2 separate regions of the Homo sapiens genome follow, and region 1 is linked to region 2. The links come from fine-mapping of genetic effects on gene expression. A gene starts in region 2. The other region holds a variant in brackets. All regions are shown on one strand. Distances are from middle to middle. Region 1 overlaps SLAMF6 (SLAM family member 6). Region 2 holds the start of SLAMF6 (SLAM family member 6).

The links.
Region 1: its variant is fine-mapped to the expression of SLAMF6 in whole blood (INTERVAL, PIP 0.98).

Annotation. Positions count from the first base shown.
Region 1 is chr1:160,485,801-160,488,726 of GRCh38, forward strand. It overlaps SLAMF6 (SLAM family member 6), which reads right to left. Exons shown (of 8, transcript NM_001184714.2): 7 at 1,304-1,375; 8 at 1-954. The coding sequence ends at 907. Among named protein-coding and RNA genes, the nearest start is that of SLAMF6, 36 kb to the right of the region's middle. The variant C/T (reference allele first, on the strand shown) is at 1,537.
Region 2 is chr1:160,521,974-160,524,899 of GRCh38, forward strand. SLAMF6 (SLAM family member 6) reads right to left here and starts at 1,282. Exons shown (of 8, transcript NM_001184714.2): 1 at 1,171-1,282. The coding sequence starts at 1,219. RefSeq lists an enhancer at 1,067-1,116.

The DNA.
Region 1 (2,926 bases), 36 kb before region 2:
ATGGTGGTCAAGGAGTTGGAGGAGAAGTGGAAGGTCCAAGAAATATTTCTGAGGTAGAGTCCAAAGGGCCTGGTGACAAAGACACTGGAGTCAGGGATGACTTAGATTCTTGGCTCAAACAATGGAGCTGATGTAATACCATCCTCTTCCTTTTTCAGTCTGGGAGACTAAGGCTCCAAAAGGTTAGGCAGTATGTCCCAGGAGATGTGTCTAATAAACATTGTACAAGTTGAGCATCCCAAATCCAAAAATCCAATATCCAAAATGCTCCAAAATCTGAGATTTTGAGCACTGCATCGACATCAATGAAACTCAAGGGAAATGCTTATTGGAGCATTTTGAATTTTGGATTTTTGGATTTGGATACTCAACCGCTAAATATAATGCAAATATTCCAAAATCTGAAAAAAAATTGAAATCTGAAACATTTCTAATCCCAAGCATTTCAGACAAGGGATGCTCAACTTGTATCAGGATGGGCCCATCCAACTCCAGAGACTACACATGTAACCAACACACTGCATTATTTCTCAATAAGTCAATCCTGCTGCTTTCTAAAAGGAGAGAAGTGGTTGTCTTCTGGATCATAAACTCTCTGTCAACCATAATTCCATTTGCTTAGTTATCAAAGAGAGAGTCAATGTGCTGGTGTGTTATCTTTAGCATGTTTTGGCCTGAAGTGGATTGGAAAATATTATTTGAACCACATGCTGGAAATGATGTTATCCTTAGGTGTTTGACTCAGGTAGGCAGGTTTAAGTCCGAAGGACTGGAGGTGATCATCCTATCCTAGATATTCAAATTCTGTTGCCAGGAACAACAGGAACCAAGCTTCCTGTTCTTTGTTCTGTCTCATGGGATCAGAAGACGTGTCATTCCCGAATTCCTCTGAGGCCTTTCAGCAACTTACACGACATTGTCAAGGGCAGTTGCCCTGGAAAAAGTGGGTTTACTCTGTGGGAAAAAGAGGAAGATGAGGTAGGTTAATTGGAACTGGAACCTCAGCCCACCCCTCATAACTACAGAGAGAGGACTGGAGACTACAGAGAGGCAGATAATAGAGATATTGATAGCATAGGGCAGGATTAAATTTAAAAACATGTAATTGAAAACTCAGTTATGCATGGTGATCCTAATACAAAATAACTTCTTGATTATGTTTTGGTGATGTCCTGAGACTTTCCGCATGCTGCTGCTGTTTGTGCATCTGTAAAATGACCCTTTTATTTTTACTTTATTTGAAAAATCATAGGTCTGTGGAGAGAGGTAAGAATATAAAAACATGGAGCAATCGTGGGCTTACCTCTTTGGAATGATTAATTGTGGAGTAAATTGTGATAGTATCATTTTCTCTAGGTGTCCAGATTTCTGTTTCCTGTAAAAAGAATCATACCAATTTGGCTTACACAGAGACAAAGAGATTAATGCATAGATATATTCTTAGGAAAGACTGTGTGACAAAAAAGAGAATATGTCAAAGTTCTTCCAGAGGAAGGCTGGGGAATGTTCAGTGGAAGACCAAGCACGACTAGCTAT[C/T]AAACTTGTGAGGATTTAGTGGCATTTCCTGAGCCCCAAACAGAACAGCAACACTGCAGCAAACCAATGGGCTCAAGAGCCAGAGAAAGGCAGCCTTGCTGTATGAAGGGAAGGAAGTATTCTTGTCCTTTGTCCAGCTCTACTTTCCTTCCTCCATTTTTAAGAAAAAACTTATATACCAGATAGTTTATTATATGTTTTGTCTCAAATTTTTACTAGCTATGACTGAAACTACCCATTTTGCCTGCTCCATCTTTTGCTATAATTCTAACTGCCTTGTCATCATGTCATTGGGGTCTTCTCAAGCATGGGGAATTGGTAGAATAGGAACACTTGGCCTTAAGAATGGCTCTGCCTGGAATGCACATTACAGAAATAATAGCAGAAGTCCCTACGGCCCTCAAAGAACCTACTCAAAGATTTTGACACTTTAAATTAATGAAGAAGTATTTAGAGAATTATCAAGATCTCTACTGGGCACAGTGGCTCATGCCTGTAAACCCAACACTTTGGGAGGACGAGGCAGGCGGATCACTTGAGCGCAGAAGTTTGAGACCAGCCTGGGCAACATGGTGAAACCCCGTCTCTACAAAAAGTAGAAAAATTATCCTGATGTGATGGTGCTCGCCTGTAGTCGCAGCTACTTGGGAGGCCAAGGTAAAAGGATCACCTGAGCATGAGGAGGTTGAGGCTGCAGTGAGCTGTGATTGTGCTACTGCACTCAGCCCTTGGTGACAGAGTGACACTCTGTCTCAAAAAAAAAAAAAAACCAAAAAACAAAAAACAAACCAACAAAAAACAAAAAAACCTCAAACTCTCCAAAGCACATTTTTTTTTTCTTTTTGCTAAAGAGAAAGCTAACCAATTTGTGGGAAATTAGTTTTTTGATTTGTCAGAGTGTGAGTTGACTTGTTTTCAGGAGGAATTTGCAAAGGCAAAAGAAATGTCTGAGCAAGTGAGAGTACCCCTTCTTGCTTCCTGTCATCAAGGATCATACTTTGCAAATATAGGTGAAGGGAATCCAAGATTTCTAGCTAGATCATTGCTTACATCATTTTGAAAATGCTAAGCTTTCCTGGCTTATTTTTCAGAAAACTGGCCTCTCAAAATGTATGGTATTATTTAGAGATGTGCCACCTGCAGGTCCTTTATTTAGGGGTGGTGGGGAGTTGCTGATACATGACAGATGAGTTGCTGATGCTTGACCAGCCATCCTGTTATGCTGCTAGATGAGAGGGGAGGGGTGAACCATTGCTCATGGTTTAGTGGCCTCTACTGTGCCCCCTTCCCCTCTTGAGAGACTACTTCTGAACTCCCCTAAGACCCCTACATGCAGAGTGAGAAGTCAGCCACCTGCTATGGAACTACGTCCATAGGAAACTTTCAAACT
Region 2 (2,926 bases):
TGCTTGCTTTGTTCATGATGTATTCATGCAAACTAGAAGAGTGCCAAGCATTCAGTAGGTGCTCAATGAATATTTATTCCTTTCTCATTCCAATTACCAATTACTCTACTTAACTCCATATTGATGGGATCTCTTGCTTCAGTCTCTTCTTTCTCTTATGCTGCTGCCACACTTGTTGAACTGTTATTTTTTCTCATAACTATTACAAGAGCTTGTCGCATGCTGGCTAATGAAATTTGGGCAAATTATTTAAATTAAGTTCACCTCAGTTCTTCATTTTAAAATGGAGATATTAATAGTATAAATTCATAGAATTCTCATGAGACTCATAACGTGTGTACAGCACCTGGCACAATACTTGAAATACAATAAGTGCTCAGTGAATGCTTCCTACTTTTATCTGCTACCCTGGGCTAGCTCTGGACTAGATTTCCATTGGTCTCCTGGACTATCTCTGCCTGAATGCTACACTTTGTCTCCCGTGGACCACTTGTAGTTCCCCAAATGTGATATGAATCTTCATCTTCTCCATATAATGGACAGCAGGAAACAAGAAGCCAGCTGGATCAGTTCATTCTTTTCTCACTGCCATATATAATGCATTGCTGGACTAGCTAGCCCTAATTTGCACTAAAGGAGGGGAGAGATGGAAACCTTTTTTTTTGCAATGAGCAAAAGGTGAGAGGGTTATTTTTGGTGTGTTTGGTTGGGCCCAGAAAATTTGGCTCAACTGAATAATAGGTTTTTAATAATTTAGATGAGGATAGTGAGGTTCAGGAAGGATAAGTAACCTCCCTGAGGTTCACAGTACGATAGTAGATACATTGGTATGAGGGCCCATTTTCTTGGTCTTGGTACTCTTTATAACACAAGATGCTGGTCATAAACCACAAACAGTCTTGTCTTCAAAAGCTTATTTCCTCTGCCCCAGCAAATAACTTTCTTACATGCAGACACAATTGAAATTGTTCACCGACAACCATCTCAGGCTTATCGCATCCAAAGTTGAGAGGAGGTAGTAGTATATCAGGTAACACTGCCAGCGTCCCCTTTCCCGCCCCAATCCCTTGGCAGAGAGCCAGACAACTGTATACAGACGATTTAGGTTGAGCAAGCTGCACAAAACCAGGGAGTCACTCAGTGACTACACCGATCTGGATTGACATTTACCTGGGCCAAAGCAGAAGACAAACAGGAGCGATTGGAACAGCCACAACATGCTTTCCGCGGTGAAGACTGGTGCTTGAGACCTTGAGGCAGTCAATGTTTTTGCCCTTCTGTCATAAACTGAAAATACTTCTGAGACTTCCCCTTCCTCTTAGAGGCGTGGTGACAACTTCTTCCCCTGCACTAAAAATCCTAATTTGTAACTGTGTTAATTTTTTGTTTACTTTTTTCTGAGCTAAGTGCACAAATTTTTTTTTTTTTTGGAAAAGAAGATAAAGTCCTTTATTGCATCTTTCATAAACTTATATGTAAAAGTCTGTAAGGAATTTCCTAAAATCTACTAGAACAAATAAATGAGTTCAGCAAGGTGAAAAGATACAAAATCAAAATATAAAATTCAATTGCAATTGTATATACTAGCTATGAGTAATCCAAAAATAAAATTCAAAAAACAATTCCACTCTAATTACATTAGAAAAAAATATTTAAGTATAAAGCTAAGAAAAAGCCAAAAGAAAACTGATTTTTTAAAATTATACTTTAAGTTCTAGGGTACATGTGCACAATGTGCAGGTTTGTTACATATGTATACATATGCCATGTTGGTGTGCTGCACCTATTAACTTGTCATCTACATTAGATATTTCTCCTAATGCTATCCCTCCCCTTGCCCCCCACCCCGTGACATACCCCAGTGTATGATGTTCCCCTACCTGTGTCCATGTGTTCTCATTGTTCAGTTCCCACCTATGAGTGAGAACATGCGTTGTTTGGCTTTCTGTTCTTGTGTTAGTTTGCTGAGAATGATGGTTTCCAGCTTCATCCATGTCCCTGCAAAGGACATGAACTCATCCTTTTTTATGGCTGCATGGTATTCCATGGTATATATATGCCACATTTTCTTTATCCAGTGTATCATTGATGGGCATTTGGGTTGGTTCCAAGTCTTTGCTATTGTGAACAGTGCTGCAATAAACATAAGTGTGCATGTGTCTTTATAGCAGCATGATTTATAATCCTTTGGGTATATAACCAGTAATGGGATTGCTGGGTCAAATGGTATTTCTAGTTCTAGATCCTTGAGGAATCGCCACACTGTATTCCACAATGGTTGAACTAGTTTACACTCCCACCAACAGTGTGAAAACATTCCCATTTCTCTACATCCTCTCCAGCATCTGTTGTTTCCTGATTTTTTAATGATTGCCATTCTAACTGGCATGAGATGGTATCTCATTGTAGTTTTGATTTGCATTTCTCTAATGACCAGTGATGATGAGCTTTTTTCATATGTTTCTTGGCCGCATAAATGTCTTCTTTTGAGAAGTGTCTTCATATCCTTTGCCCACTTTTTGTTGGGGTTTTTTTTTTTTTCTTGTAAATTTGTTTGAGTTCTTTGTAGATTCTGGATATTAGCCTTTTGTCAAATGGATAGACTGCAAAAATTTTCTCCCATTCTGTAGGTTCCCTGTTCACTCTGATGATAGTTTCTTTTGCTGTGCAGAAGCTCTTTAGTTTAATTAGGTCCCATTTGTCAATTTTGGCTTTTGTTGCCATTGATTTTGATGTTTTAGTATTGAAGTCTTTGCCCATGCCTTTGTCCTGAATGGTATTGCCTAGGTTTTCTTCTGGGGTTTTTGTGGTTTTAGGTCTAACATTTAAGTCTTTAATCCATCTTGAGTTAATTTTTGTGTAAGGTATAAGGAAGGGAACCAGTTTCAGTTTTCTGCATAATTGCTAGCCAGTTTTCCCAACACCA